2 separate regions of the Homo sapiens genome follow, and region 2 is linked to region 1. A link means that fine-mapping ties the variant in region 1 to the expression of a gene that starts in the linked region. Tissue or cell type: monocytes. Region 1 holds a variant in brackets; the other region holds the start of a gene. All regions are shown on one strand. Distances are between the middles of the regions.

What was found. PIP is the estimated chance that this variant, and not a neighbour inherited with it, causes the effect.
Region 2: it holds the start of EPHB4, and the variant in region 1 is fine-mapped to the expression of EPHB4 in monocytes (TOPMed, PIP above 0.99).

What each region holds. Positions count from the first base shown.
Region 1 is chr7:100,782,156-100,790,155 of GRCh38, reverse strand. ZAN (zonadhesin) reads right to left here. Exons shown (of 48, transcript NM_003386.3): 36 at 5,322-5,533; 37 at 4,015-4,159; 38 at 2,020-2,267; 39 at 809-938. Among named protein-coding and RNA genes, the nearest start is that of EPHB4, 41 kb to the left of the region's middle. RefSeq lists an enhancer at 4,932-5,431. The variant ACAAG/G (reference allele first, on the strand shown) is at 3,745.
Region 2 is chr7:100,824,047-100,832,046 of GRCh38, reverse strand. EPHB4 (EPH receptor B4) reads left to right here and starts at 4,524. Exons shown (of 17, transcript NM_004444.5): 1 at 4,524-5,068; 2 at 7,774-7,844. The coding sequence starts at 5,017. It also overlaps a transcript of SLC12A9 not described here. RefSeq lists enhancers at 2,133-2,928, 3,725-4,520.

The DNA of each region.
Region 1 (8,000 bases):
AGTAGCTGGGATTACAGGTGTGCACCACCACATCCAGCTAATTTTTTATTTTTATTTTTTATAGAGATGGGATCTTGCTATGTTGCCCAGGCTGGTCTCGAATGCCTGGCCTCAAGCGATCCTCCCGTCTCAGCCTCTCCAGTTCCAGAAGCTGGGATTACAGGCATGCACCATCACACCTGTCTCATTTAAAAAAAAAAAATTTTTTTTGAGATGGAGTTTTGCTCTTGTCACCCAGGCTGGAGTGCAGTGGCACGATCTCAGCTCACTGCAACCTCCGCCTCCCACGTTCAAGCGATTCTCCTGCCTCAGCATCCCAAGTAGCTGGGATTACAGGCGCCCACCACCACACCCAGCTAATTTTTGTATTTTTAGTAGAGATGGGGTTTCGCCATGTTTGCCAGGCTGGTCTTGAACTCCTGACCTTAGGTGATCCACCTGCCTCAGCCTCCCAAAGTGCTGGGATTACAGGCGTGAGCCACTGTGCACGGCCTTTAAAATTTTTTTTGTAGAGACGGGGGTCTCACTATGTTCCCCAGGCTGGTCTTGAGCTTCTGACCTCAAGCGATCCTCCCACCTCAGCTTCCCGGAGCGCTGGGATTTCTGGCCAGTGCCACAGCACCCAGCCAAGACTCTGCCCTCTGCTCTCCACCTGGTCTCACCTCACCTCCTCCTGGTCCTCCTCTGAAGCTGGGTGCCCCACTACCGGGCCGAGTCTGCTCACCAGGATTTGCCTGTCTTAAATAGGATTTTCCCTCCCACTTCCCAGAAATGGCCCTTTTGCTCTTCTTTCCCCTCTCTCCATTACCTGCATTTTTCCTTCCACCAAAGCTGACGACCAGCTCAAAGTCGGTGACCAGGTAGAGCCGTTGGCCCCACAGGGTGACCCGCAGGTGTTCATTTGGCCTGTAGGGGACGGCCATCTTCTGGTTGTTGACCTAAAGAGGGAAGACAGGAGCCACAGACAGGGCTGAATCCTCCTGACCTGCTGCCATTTCCTGGCTGGGCTTCACTTTTCCCAGTCATCTCCATATGTCTCCGTGCAGAGAGTGGAATAAGATACCCCAATGGGCTTTGCTATTCACGTGGCAGAAACCTCTGTGAGGTCCGCCCCCTTCCCAGCCCAAGTCCTTCCTTGCAAAAAATTGGCTCAGTGAGGCCGGGCACAGTGGCTCACACCTGTAATTCTAGCACTTTGGGAGGCCGAGTCGGGCGGATCACTTGAGGTCAGGAGTTCCAGACCAGCCTGGCCAACATGGGGAAACCACGTCTCTACTAAAAATACAAAAATTAGCCAGACATGGTGGTGCACACCTGTAGTCCCAGCTACTAGGGAGGTTGAGGCAGGATAATCACTTGAACCTGGGAGGTGGAGGTTGCAGTGAGCCTAGATGGTGCCACTGCACTCCAGCCTGGGCGACAGAGTGAAACTCTGCCTCAAAAAATAAAAATACATTGGTGTAGTGGATGCCATTGGTTCTTCAGCCCAGGATTGACCTTCACACACCTCACGCTCTGTCCTCCTCCTCTCTTCCTCTTGTTTCTTGCCAGCCTCTGCTGCCTCCCCACATGAAGTGAGCTTGTTGCTGAATTTGTTTTTGATTTTGAGACAGTTTCTCTCTGTCACCCAGGCTAAAGTGCAGTGGCAAGATCTTGGCTCACTGCAGCCTCAAACTCCTGGGCTCAAGTGATCCTCCAGCCTAAGCCTGCCCAATAGCTGGAACTACAGGTGTGCGCCCCCATATCCAGCTCATTTTAAATTTTTTGCAGAGATGTTGCGTCTTGCTATGTTGCCCAGGCTGGTCTTGAACTCCTGGGCTCAAGTGATCCTCCCGTCTTAGCCTCCTGAGTAGCTGAGATTACAGGCGTGAACCACTGCGTCCTGCTGACTCTGATTTTACAACCAGCCCACCCCTGCCACAAACATCCCAGGGAACAGGGATCCCTGACTTCTACTCCAGGTGGCCTACCTGGTCCAGCTGCCTCCCCACACCCACCAGGCCCTGGCCCAGCTCTTACCACAAGCTCCAGACCAGCTTGGAGCTGCACTTTATAGCCGTAGACGGTGGTAATCACTTCCTGCAAGAAGATGGAGCTCCTGGGCGGATCCATCTTGTTGCGTCCTTCCACGAGGAGGGGCTCCACCCCCTCAGGCAGTACGTCCACAGTCTTGATCAGAACATAGGTCATGCGGCCTTGCAAGCGGTAGCTGAAGCCGTCAAATGTGAGGTAACGGGGGTCGCCATAGACTGAGCATTGTTCAGACTCTGCCAAGAAGTCAGACAGTGAGAAGGGGCCGGGCGCAGTGGCTCACGCCTGTAATCCCAGGACTTTGGGAGGCCAAGGCGGGTGGATGACCTGAGGTCAGGAGTTTGAGACCAGCCTGGCCAACATGGTGAAACCCTGTCTCTACTAAAAATACAAAAATTAGCCAGGTGTGGTGGTGCGTGCCTGTAATCCCAGCTACTTGGTAGGCTGAGGCAAGAGAATTGCTTGAACCCGGGAGGCAGAGGTTGTAGTGAGCGCCGAGATCGCGCCACTGCACTCCAGCCTGGGAGACAGAGTAAGACACCATCTCAAAAAAACAAAAAACAAAACAAAAGACTGAGAAGGGACCCTGCCCAGGTGTGACAGTCCCCAGAGTCCCTCCCCCACGGTGGCATCCCCTGTGGCCACCCTCTTAGGCTCAGGCTCCCTGGATCCTTTCTTTTCTTTTTTTAATTTTCTTTTTCTTTTTTTGAGACAGGGTCTTATTCTGTCACCCAGACTGGAGTACAAGTGGTACGATCATAGCTCACTGCAGCCTCCACCTCCTGGTCTCGAGTGATCCTCCTGAGTAGCTGGGACTTTAGGTGCGCACCACCACCCCTAGCTAATTTTTTTCTTTTTTTTTTAGAAATGGCCACACTACATTGCCCAGGCTGGTCTTGAACTCCTGGCCTCAAGAAATCCTCCCACCTTGGCCTCCCAAAGTCCAAAGTGCTGAGATTACAGGCATAAGCCACCAAGCCCGGTACCTAGACTTTTTTTTTTCAATACCTACTGACATTCAATTAGAGGCCCTTTATTATTATTTTTATTTTTTTATTTTTTTGAGACAAGATCTCACTCTGTGTCCCAGGCTGGAGTGCAGTGGTACAATCATAGCTCACTGCAGCCTCAAACTCCTGAGCTCAAGCAATTCTCCTGCGTCAGTCTCCTGAGTAGCTGGGACTACAGGCACAAGCCACTACACCTAACTAATTTTTTAAAATTTTAAAATTTTTTGTAGGGACAGGGTCTTCCTATGTTGGCCAGGTTGGTGTTAAATTCCTGGGCTGAAGTGATTCTTCCACCTCTGCCTCCCAAGTACTGGGATTACAGGCATGAACCACCATGCCCAGCCTCCCTGGATCCTTGATCTTCAATTTTCTCTATCTCCTGGCCTGATTAAAAACCTTAGAGGGGGCGGGCACAGTGGCTCATGCCTGTAATCCCAACACTTTAGGAGGCTGAGGCAGGAGGAACACATGAGCCCATGAGTTCAAGCCCATCTTGGGCAACATAGCAAGACCCCATCTCTAGAAAAAAAATAGCAAAATTGGCTGGGTGTGGTGGTCCATGCCTGTAGTCCCAGCTACTTGGGAGGCTGAGATGTGAGGATCACATGATTGCAGGCATTTGAGGTTGCAGCTAGCTATATGATGGTGCCAGTGCACTCCAGCCTGGGCAACAGAGCAAGACCCTATCTCAAAAAACAAACAA[ACAAG/G]AAAAGAAAAACTTTGGAGGATCTCCTTGACCAGTCCCCTCTTTTTGCCCTGCAGGTGGAGGGTCCCAGAGGGGATCAGGACCTGGCACATGGCCACAGAGTTAGCAAGAGCTAAACTGGAGGCCAGGCCTCCTGATCCAGTCGCCCGCCCCAACCCCTGACTGTGCTGGGGTTCAGGCTAAGCCCCTTCCCACCCTGCCTCTTCCTCCACCTCCGCCCTGGCCACAGGTGCTCCCCTCTCCAACCTCCCCGGTCGCTCCCCTTACTGTCTGAGACACAATTGCTGTTGCTGTTGTCGGAAGTGAGCTGGCAGTGGGACCCAGAGGGGCATCGGAAGTCCCCGCACTGAATGGCTCCTCCCGTGCAGACACACTTCTCCGTGCAACCGCTGGAGACCCAGCTCTTGCCCAGCTGTAGAAGTTACAGGAAGAGAAAGAGAGTGAGGAGGGGGCTGGGCGCGGCGGCTCACGCCTGTAATCCCAACACTTTGGGAGGCCGAGACGGGTGGATCACCTGAGGTCAGGAGTTTGTGACGAGCCCAGCCAACATGGTGAAACCCTGTCTCTACTAAAAATACAAAAATTAGCCAGGTGTGGTAGCACACACTTGTAATCCCAGCTACTCAAGAGGCTGAGGCAGGAGAATTGCTTGAACCCAGGAGGCAGAGGTTGCAGTGAGCCAAGATCGCACCACTGCATTCCAGCCTGGGCAACAGAGCGAGACTCTGTCTCAAGAAAAAAAAAAAAAAGAGTGAAGAGGGGAGGGCCAGTTCTCCTTCCTCTTGCCCCAGCAGCCTGGCCCACCATCTAAATGGCTTAATTGATGCTGGCCAGAGGCAGCCACAGTGTCATTTGGTCATCCAAAAGACAACTGTGCAGGCCAAGTGTGGTGGCTCACACCTGTAATCTTAGTACTTTGGGAGGCCAAGGCGGGCAGATCACTTGAGGTCAGGAGTTCGAGACCAGCCTGGCCAACATGGTGAAACCCAATCTCTACTAAAAATTCAAAAATTAGCAGGCTGTGGTGGCGCTTGCCTGTAATCCCAGCTACACAGGAGACTGAGGCAGGAGAATGGCTTGAACCCAGGAGGCAGAGATTGCAGTGCGCAGAGATTATGCCACTGCACTCTAGCCTGCTGGATAATAGAGGGAGACTCCGTCTCAAAAAAAAAAAAAAAAAAAAAAGGCACTGTGTTTGTGCTTGGTGACTTACATATGTTGTGCAGGAGGTACTACTGAACCCATTTTACAGATGAGGAAACGGATATAACAGAGGTCATCTGACTCATCAGTGGCACCATCAGGATTCAATCCTAGGTTAGGCTGAAATGAGCCCATGGTCTTTCCACTATACCATGCCATGTGCTGCTTGTTTGGATTCCTCAGATCCAAAACCCAAACCATGTGCCATCAGCCCAGACCTGGCTGGAGATCAATGTGCCACTCACACCAGCCTTCACACCCCCGGGCCAGCTGTAAGTCATGGGTATCCCAGGCTGAGAGAGGCAGAGAAAAGGAGAAAGCACTGCCCTCAAGCTGTGTTGCCTCCAGTCCCATTTCCCATGCCCACTCACAGGGATGGAGCCACCATGGGCATCCTTGCAGCCACACTGACTTCTGGGGACACACTTGTCTTCACTCAGCACATAGCCGGGCTGACAAATGCAGCCCTCAGCGCAGGCAGAGGGGACTTTGGCGCCCTCACACCGGCCATCCAGGTCCCAGCAGGAGGGTGAGCAGGAGGGAAGGCAGTTGGTGTAGCTGCTGTAGGCAGGGCATTCCAGAGCTGTGGGTGAAGGAGACAGTGGGTCAGTGGAGAGGGTCACAGGGGGCCAAGGTGGGCAGGGGCTGTACAAACCAAGCTATGGGTGGATGACCAACAAGGCTTGGGGAGCTTTTTTTGTTCTTTTGTTATTCATTCAGCAAACATTTACTGAGTATGGGTTATGTGCCAGGCTTTGGGGGAAAGCAAGGAAAAAGCGGCTGGGCATGGTGGCTCACGCCTGTAATCCCAGCACTTTGGGAGGCTGAGGTGGGTGGATCACAAGGTCAGGAGATCGAGACCATCCTGGCCATCATGGTGAAACCCCATCTCTACTAAAAATACAACAATTAGCCAAGCGTGGTGGTGGGCGCCTGTAGTCCCAGCTACTCAGGAGGCTGAGGCAGGAGAATCACTTGAACCTGGGAGGCAGAGGTTGCATTGAGCCAAGATCACACCACTGCACTCCAGCCTGGGCAACAGAGTGAGACTGTCTCAAAAAAAAAAAAAAAAAAAGGAACAAGAATGGCTCTCCCAAGCCAGCATGAAGGACGGTGGTCAAACAGCAACGGCAGCAGGACCTTGATGTGTATGATCAGTAGGTGTGTTGACAGCAAGAGCATACAAGGCATGATGGAGGCACAGAGCAGGGAGGTATTAATTCTGTTGGGGGAGTTAAAGAAAGGCCCTTAAGCAAAAATAGTGTGAACAAATGGAAATGCATACCATGTTCATGGATAAGAAGGTTCAGCAACATGGTGATGTTAGTTCTGCCTCAGTGAATGTACACATTTAATGTGATCTCAATAAAATATACATATATATATATGTATATATATATGTGTGTATATATATATATGTGTATATATATATATATATATATTTTTTTTTTTTTTTTTTTTTTTTTTTTTTTGCGGGGGACGGGCAGGGACGGAGTCTCTCTCTGACACCCAGGAATGATCTTGGCTCACTGCAGCCTCTGCCTCCCTGGTTCCAGAGATTCTCCTACTTCAGCCTCCCAGGTAGCTGGGATTACAGGCATGTGCCACCATGCCTGGCTAATTTTTGTATTTTTAGTAGAGATGGGGTTTCACCATGTTGGCCAGGCTGGTCTCAAACTCCTGACCTCAGGTGATCCTCCCACCTTGGCCTCCCAAAGTGCTAGGATTACAGGCATGAGCCACCACACCCAGCCACCAAAAGTATTTTATATATGTGTGTGCTTTTAATAGGACAAGATGATTTCAAAGTTGAGCTGAAGACATAAGCAAACCAGAAAAGCCAGGAACTCCCTAAAAAAAAGAGCCATCAGTAGTGAATGGCCCTCCATAAGTCGTTTATTTTGTTTTATTTTATTTATTCATTTATTTATTTTTTTGAGATAGAGTTTCGCTCTTTCCGCCCTGGCTGGAGTGCAATGGCACAATCTCAGCTCACTGCAACCTCCACCTCCCAGGTTCAAGCAATTCTCCTTTCTCAGCCTCCTGAGTAGCTGGGATTACAGGCACATACTAGCACGCCCAGCTATTTTTTGTATTTTTAGTAGAGATGGGGTTTTGCCATGTTGGCCAGGCTGGTCTCAAACTCCTGACCTCAGGTGATCCGCCCACCTCGGCCTCCCAAAGTGCTGGGATTACAGGCGTAAGCCACAGCGCCCAGCCCAAAGCTCATTTTAAATTTTCAGTGATTACGACTTTGTGTTACTGCTACATGCAAATACAGATGGACCGACAGAACAGAGGAGAAAGCTCAGATATGGATCCAAATATATATGGGAATTTAGTATATGATAAATTGTGGTATCTCAGTCCCTGCGCAAAGACAGACTAGTCATTTAATAATATTGGAACAGCTGGCTAGCCTTCTGGAGAAAAACAAAAACAAAGTTGATTCATACCTCATTTTACACATCAGGATAAATCTTCATGGGTCAAAAACTTAAATACACACACACACACACACACAAAAAAAACCCACTTAAATATAAAAAAATGAAACCATAAAAGTTCTAGAGCAGGCCGGACACGGTGGCTCACGCCTGTAACCCCAGCACTTGGGGAGGACGAGGCGGGCAGATCACTTGAGGCCAGGAGTTTGAGACCAGCCTGGCCAACATGGTGAAACCCCATCTCTACTAAAAATACAAAAAAATTATCCAGGCATGGTGGTGGGTGCCTGTAATCCCAGCTACTCGGAAGGCTGAGGCAGGAGAATCGCTTGAACCCAGGAGGCAGAGGTTGCAGTGATCCGGGATCGTGCCACTGCAGCCTGGGCCACAGAGTGAGACTCTGTCTCAAACAAACAAAATTTCTAGAGCAAAGAATCAGCAAACTCTTTTGTAGCTTCTGTGGGGCTAGCATTTATAGCTATTGCTCAAGATGCAGAAGACATAAAACAAGATTAATATATTTGACCCCATAAAAATTTTTGTCCTGCATGGCAAAAAAAAAAAAAGTCAAAAGATGAAAACAAAAAGGACTGGAAAACTTTG
Region 2 (8,000 bases), 42 kb before region 1:
TTTATTTGAGCTTTACAACTCTATTGGTAATGTTGAAAACTCTATCAAATTCCTTTTGTAACAGAGCTGTAAGATTTCAGGTCATTTCAAGTGTTGTCCTGCTGAAACTCACCTTCAAAACTGTTTAAATTATGGCACTTATTAACCAGGGCCGTGGAAGAAGCCAGGCAGGTGAGAGGTGCTGAAGCTTAAACTTCATGAACTTTGGGGTAAACCTGAACTTTGGACCCGACACAGTTAGGTGGCCCAGAAGAGGGGAGACTGAGATGTGGAAAGAGTAATGAGAAGTTCAACAATTTACGGAGAAAGGGGTGATTTGCTGCTTGTTATTTCTTACAATAGGAAAAGCTGTAACTCCAGGATTACTCAAAACAACTGTCACAATCTGTACAAGAAAAAGTAAACTTATTAGCCGGGCATGGTCCCCGCGCGGGGTCCCAGCTCCTCAGGAGGCTGAGGAAAGATTGCTCGAGCCCAGGAGGTCAAGGCTGCAGTGAGCCATGACCGTGCCACTGCACTCCAGCCTGGGCAATACAGTAAGACCCTATCTCTAAAAAAAAGAGCCACGTGCAGTGGCTCACGCCTGTAATCCCAGCACTTTGGGAGGCCAAGGCAGGTGGATCACCTTAGGTCAGGAGTTCCAGACCAGCCTGACCAACATGGAGAAACCCCGCGTCTACTAAAAATACAAAATTAGCCCGGTGTGGTGGCATATGCCTGTAATCCCAGCTACCTGGGAGGCTGAGGCGGGAGAATCACTTGAACCCAGGAGGCAGAGGTTGTGGTGAGCCGAGATCGCACCTTTGCACTCCAGCCTGGGCAACAAGAGTGAAACGCCGTCTCCAAAAATAAAATAAAATAAAATACAAAAGAAAAGAAAAAGAAAACTCCAGTAGCTGTTGGTGGATGCTATGCGCAAGTACCGACAATGCACCGTGTGATAGCAGTATATTGCTCTGGGCTGGGAACAAAGGTGACAGCCTAATATTTTGGGTAGGGAACAGCAAAGTGCTCTAATAATGAGGAAGGGAGGGCTGAGTTTGGTTTGGTCTGCAGAACAGGCATGGATTCAGGTAGTAACGTGAATGTTCACCCACGTTCTGTAATTTAGTGGCTACTGAATTTGCTTGCCTGGGAAGTGGTTCTGGGTGGTCTAAGGGTGGAGGACATGACTTCACACACACAGGATAGACCAAGGGTGGTTCCTGAGAATTGAAGTGAAAATCTCAGATGCCATCTCCACGTAAAGGGGAAATCATGGGATTTTTTTTCTACCAGGTTGTAATTCACCAGATGACATAAAACTATATTAATTTTTACCAGATTCTCTTTGAGGCCAGGAACCATGTTTTACAAATCTTGAAAACTAGCAATGTGATCACTCGGCACGTAGTAGATGCTCAGTAAAGATTTCATTTTTTCATTCTTTGACTGGCATACACTAGATGGTAGAAAATAGATTACTGCCTGGTGTGGGGTGTGGGCTGATGACCTGACATGGAATAGAATGTTTTCTCTCTTTCTTTCTTTCTTTTTTTGTAGACAGGGTCTCGCTATGTTGTTCAGGCTGCCCTCAAACTCCTGGACTGAAACGATCCTCTCATCTCAGCCTCCAAAAGTGCTGGCATTACAGGTATGAGTCACTGTGCCCCACTAAGATGAGTGTTTTCTATTGTTTAATTAATTTATGTTTTGAGACAGAGTTTCACTCTGTTGCCCAGGCTGGAGTGCAGTGGCACGATTTCAGCTCACTGCAACCTCTGCCTCCCAGGGTTCAAGCAATTCTCCTGTCTCAGCCTCCCGAGTAGCTGGGACTGCAGGCCTGCACCACCACACCTGGCTAAGTTTTGTATTTTCAGTAGAGAAGGGGTTTCACTATGTTGGCCAGGCTGGTCTCGAACTCCTGACCTCAGGTGATCCGCCTGCCTCGGCCTCCCAAAGTGCTGGGATTACAGGTGTGAGCCACTGCGCCCAGCCTATTTATTTATTTACTTATTTATTTACTTTATATATTTTTTGGAGACAGAGTGTGGCTCTGTTGCCCAGGCTGGAGTGCAGTGGTGCAATCTCTGCTCACTGCAACTTCTGCCTCCCGGGTTCAAGCGATTCTCGTGCCTCAGCCTCCCTAGTAGCTGGGACTACAGGTGTGTGCCATGATGCCCAGCTGATTTTTGTATTTTTAGTAGAGAGGGGTTTCACCATGTTGGCTAGGCTGGTCTCGAACTCTTGGGCTCAAGTGATCCACCCGCCTCGGCCTCCCAAAATGCTGAGATTACAGACCTGAGCTACTGTCCCCAGCCAGAAGACATAACTTTTAGAGGCTACAGGATCTGGGTACAGAGTGAGAGTGGCAAAAGGCAGGGCAGGGGTTTGGGAGAGGGTTGCAGAGAACCCCGAGGGAGAAGCTGAATAAGAGAAGGGGAGACTGGGCCTGCATCGGGGAGGGAGGAGGGAATTCCCAGCTCCAGCCTGGTCTGCCTGGCTCCAGTGAAGCCGGCTGTTTCCTGCCCTCGGTGACCGGCCCACCCCCCCCAACCCGGGCGCAGGACCCAGGCAGAACAGCAAGGAAGGGCAGGGGTGTGGGGAACACCTCTTGCAGCAGGAAGATAAGTAAGCCGGGACAAGAGGTTATCACAGGCCCGGCTGTCCTTTCTGGGACGTAAGGGCGCTTGGCAGCCCCCCAAGCATCCTGGACTCCAACGTCTCTCTTGCTGGGCTCCAACGTCTCTCTTGCTGGGCTCCTCAAGATTCTGTCCTCCGGCTGGGCGCGGTGGCTAACGTCTGTAATCCCAGCACTTTGGGAGGCCAAGGTGGGTGGATCACTTTAGGTCAGGAGTTCGAGACCAGCCTGGCCAACATGGCGAAACCCTGTCTCTACTAAAAATACGAAAACTAGCCGGGGTTGGTGCCCTGTGCCTGTAATCCCAGCTACTCGGGAGGCTGAGGCAGGAGAATCGCTTGAACCTGGGAGGCGGAGGTTGCAGTGAGCCCAGATCACGCCACTGCACTCCAGCCTGGGAAATAGAGGGAGACTCTGTCTCAAAAAAAAAAAAAAAATCTGTCCCCGCTAATTACTGTGGGAGTCTAAGTCCTTTCCTTCTGCCCCTTGGAGGGGCTGACTCCTGGAGCAGCACCCCCTCCAATCCATCTATCCAGTAACCCATACTGTTAAGTTCCCTGAAGTAGAAGGGGGTTGGTGGGAGGAGCACGGCTGTGCTGGACCCTCCCCGCTAACTGATGGGAGGGTGAGGGGAGTTGGCAGTGAGAGGAAGGGCCCCTCCCAGCCATCCCGAGGGCCCCCAGGAGCCAGACAGGAAACAGCTCAGGAAAGACAGCAGCCGCAGCCGCAGCCCCAGCCTCAGGGGTCATGGCTGCGGGCGGCGGGGAAGCCCCCCCAAAACACGAGAGTGAGAGTGAGAAGGGCGATTTGGAGATCTAGCCGGACCCCTCACCCTCTCGGACACACCCACCTTTTTTTTTTTTTTTTTTTTTTTTGAGATTTCGTCTCACTCTGTAGCCCAGGCTGGAGTGCAGTGGCGCGATCTCAGCTCCCAGCTCACTGCAACCTCCGCCTCCTAGGTCCCGGTTCAAGCAATTCTCCTGCCTCAGCCTCCCGAGTAGCTAGGATTACAGGCGCGCGCCACCATGCCCAGCTAATTTTTGTATTTTTAGTAGAGACGGGGTTTCATCATGTTGGCCAGGCTGGTCTTGAACTCCTGACCTCAAATGATCCGCCTGCCTCTGCCTCCCAAAATGCTGGGACTACAGGCGTGAGCCACCGCGCCCGCCACACCCACCTTTTCTTTACCGTTGTTTCCTCGATTTTTCTCTACTCCCTAGCGCAGCTTAGTGCGCGCCTCCTCTGGACATTTTTCAGGGCTTGGTTGCGCGCACAGTAGGTCCCCAACACTGAATGTTTATGGGGTGACTGTGTGAACGTTCGCTGCAAGGCTATCCAAACTGGGATTGCTCCTTGAGGCCCCCTGGGCGGCCGTCAATTCTCCAAAGCTTCTACTCCCTTTTCCTTCCTTTTCCCCCAAAACGCAGTCCCTGCGCCCACTAGAGGGTGGTGGGCGCATCCAAGAGCGGCATCTAGAGTCCGCAGCAAGGTCAGAGCGGGCTTTGTGTGCGCGGTGAACATTTACGTGCACGCCTGGGCGGCCCTCCGTGTTGCTGCTGGGTGTGTGTTTTCTCTGCTCCCTGGTGCCAGCCGGGTTCGGGCCTGTCCCGGGGGTCCCTGGGCCCCAGCCCCGACATGCTCGGTCCTGGACAGCGCGCACCGCCACGGCGCACATCTGGGCGGTCCCGGGGTTCCTCACCCGCCGCCCCTCCCCCTTCTCCAAACTTTCTCTCAACTTCCCGACCTGCTCCACTCGGTGCCCCTCTCCGCTTCCCTCATGAATTATTCAGTAGCGTGAGCTCCAATCAGCGCGCCCGGGGCTCACTCGCGGAGCCCCCGCGTTGGGAGAGCTGCCCCCGCCCCCCGCGCGCCCCTCCCTCCCGGGCCCGGCGCCGCCCGGCCCAGTTCCAGCGCAGCTCAGCCCCTGCCCGGCCCGGCCCGCCCGGCTCCGCGCCGCAGTCTCCCTCCCTCCCGCTCCGTCCCCGCTCGGGCTCCCACCATCCCCGCCCGCGAGGAGAGCACTCGGCCCGGCGGCGCGAGCAGAGCCACTCCAGGGAGGGGGGGAGACCGCGAGCGGCCGGCTCAGCCCCCGCCACCCGGGGCGGGACCCCGAGGCCCCGGAGGGACCCCAACTCCAGCCACGTCTTGCTGCGCGCCCGCCCGGCGCGGCCACTGCCAGCACGCTCCGGGCCCGCCGCCCGCGCGCGCGGCACAGACGCGGGGCCACACTTGGCGCCGCCGCCCGGTGCCCCGCACGCTCGCATGGGCCCGCGCTGAGGGCCCCGACGAGGAGTCCCGCGCGGAGTATCGGCGTCCACCCGCCCAGGGAGAGTCAGACCTGGGGGGGCGAGGGCCCCCCAAACTCAGTTCGGATCCTACCCGAGTGAGGCGGCGCCATGGAGCTCCGGGTGCTGCTCTGCTGGGCTTCGTTGGCCGCAGCTTTGGAAGGTGAGTTTCCTTGCGGGGGGGGGCGCACCCCGTCACTCCTGGGACCTCCCCCCCAACATCTGGGCCTCGGAGTGGAGGGGCCGGCCTCTGACTACCCCTACCCGGGCACTGCAGTCCCAAACACTTCGGACCGATAGTGCTGGAACGGGAGGGGGGCGGGGAAGAGGCGCCCGACGGGTAGTGGAGTTTTCTTTTGTTTGGGAAAGAGATGGAGTCTGGCTACGACCCGGGACATTCCCCTGCCCGGGCTCCCCGAACTCTCACTGCTGATTACATACGCCCCTGGCTGCCTTTCCTTTCCTCCCTACCCCACTATTCAAAACTATCTGCAAAGTTTCTGTCCCAGTCCCACCTCCCGCCGTACATGAGGGAAGGTTTCTGGAGAAGCAACAGCAGACAAGGCACAACTTTTCGTGCTAGGCCCTAAAACGACCCCCAGCGCCAATTCCTTAGCGATCACACCTTGATCCTCCAGTTCCACACTCCTGCAACAGGATGGCCTCCTTTGCATTCACACAGCAAACCCCCAAACCGCTCTCCCGCCCACTGCTCCTGCCCCTGGTATAGGGTGGCTCCTTGGTTTCTACAGGCTGCACCCCATCCCTTTAAATGCGGTCTAGACCCCGGCCCCAGGTGAGTCCCGGGCTTCCCTTGAGACCTAGGAGCGGGTAGAAACTGACCTACACAGCCCCCAGGTAGAAACTGACCTACACAGCCCCCACATCGCCCTAACTAACCCAGTCTATCTCCCACCTCCTGGTCTCTCCAAGCATTTCTTTGGCCATGGATCGCTGTCCCTCCTGGTCCCCTAAAGGGGGAGCCAAGAGCCCTAGAAACTCTCCTGTGTCCCTAATGTCCTTTCAGTGAGCTGCCAACACCCCCCTTTCTCTGTCTGGTATGAAAGTGGTTATGGGGCGGTAGGCTATGAGGGACTCCCAAAGGGAAGGATTCAGCGGCGTTAGAAAAACCCTCTCCCCCTGGCTGGGCAGGACTGCCCTGGGCTGGGGATCAAAGGCTAGGTGTGGGGTTGGGAGTGAGGGGAGGCTTGCCCAGCTCAGAGAACGGAGAAGGGGGAACAAAAACCATGAACGAGGGGAAGAGGAAGGCCAAAGGGGTGGAAAAACCACGAGGACGAGGTGTGGTGAGAAGGAAAGACGCAAAGAGGAAATGGTGATTGTGACACCTATTACCTGAGTGTTTCCAAGCACCAGGCCTGTGCTGAGCGCCTTACAAATATTAATTTCACCCATCCAGCAACGCTAAGGGTGGTGCTATTATTGCCCCCATTTTTCAGATGAGGAGGCTGGGGCTTAGTTAAGGTTAAGTAGTTTATCCAAGGCCCTGTGCCGCGAGGAACAGCGAGAAGTGGAGGCCGAAAGCGAAGGAGAGATAGTGACTGTCAGAAAGAGAAACGGAGGTGGACAGAGAGTGGAGGAGAGATAGGTGAGAGACATGCGAACTGACAGATCAAAGCGTGGCTGCAGCTGAGCTGGGACGCAGAAAGGGAGCCTGCGCTTGCTCTGGGCTGCGGACAGCCCGAGGCAGAGACAGTGTGTAAATTGGAGACAGGAAAACACTATCCCGGCTGGAACAATGGAGGGTGGAGACGGCAGCCTCTATCCACCCCCTTCCCAGAACCCGGGCATCCTGTCCCCAGTGAGCAGGGCTGTCTCTTGCCACCCATGGGGACCTTGCGCCTCTCACCTCAGGCTGGCTGGCTTCCCATCTGACCCCTAGCTGGAGGACATCATTTGGTCCCCAGGAAGAGGCTGCCTCACCCACCCTCTTTCTCTTCTCTCCTGCAGCTCCCATGGGGTGGGAGCCAGGTGTTCTGGCTCCCCTCTCCACCCTTCCCAGCGCCCAATGCCCCCCACATTGCCGGCCCCCGAGGGGATTCCTGTACCCTCCCTCCTCCACTCTCCACTGCCAGGGGCTGTGCAGTTTTTCCTAATCCCCCCCCTTCCTCCAGTGCCTGTCCCCTCCCCCGATGATCCGAGCCAAGCCAGGTGTGTTCACCCCTCCCATTCATACCGCCCCCCAGAATCTCCTCCCCTCTGCCTTCCCATAACCAAATCCAGATGTGAGGCCTCGGCGGGAGCCTGGGAACCCTAGCATCCCGACCTCCAGTGCTTCCTGATCAGGGCACTCGTGGGGAGGGAGGTACTGGGATGGGGGCCAGGGCTATGCCCCAGGCACGGAGCGCTCCCTTCAAGGAGGGAAGGACGGGGTGTTTGGTCTGAAAGCAGAGAGGGGTCTTGGACAGGGAATGAAATTGTGGGGTAGAGAGGCTGATTCTGGGACTTAGGGGAGGAAACGTGGAGGCTGAGACAAGAGGTTCCCCTCCCACACCAGCAGCCTCTGCTCGTGGGGGTCAGGACCAGGGCGCAGCTCTCATTTTAACCCTTTCTGAGCTGCCGCCCCTTCTCCCCGTACATTTTGATCTCCCTCCCTCCTCCAGGGAGGCCTAGATCTGGGGTATCCCAAGGGAGCCCCATGCCTACCAGATGTTGGGGGTGGGGTTGGCACTTAGCAGAAGAGGCCAGAAATCAGGCGGGTGCAGAGGGCAGGGCTTGCTCCCCTCTTGGCCCCCCAACTCCTCTAGCTCAGAGCTAAGAGGATCCACCTGCCTCGGTTCCCAGGGATCTGGTCTTCCTGACCTCCCTCCCCCACCCCAGGCACTGACTCTGTCTCTCTGTCTGTCTCAGAGACCCTGCTGAACACAAAATTGGAAACTGCTGATCTGAAGTGGGTGACATTCCCTCAGGTGGACGGGCAGGTGAGAGCTGCACCCAGGAGCTGGAGCTCTGGAGGGAAACTGAGGGAGGAGAGGGCGCCTGTGCCGCCTGCTTTCTGTGTGCCACTCCTCTCCCCTGTCCCCCCAGATGACAGCAGCCCCAGCAGTGTCGTCTGAGCCCTTCTCAGAGGCGCCCTC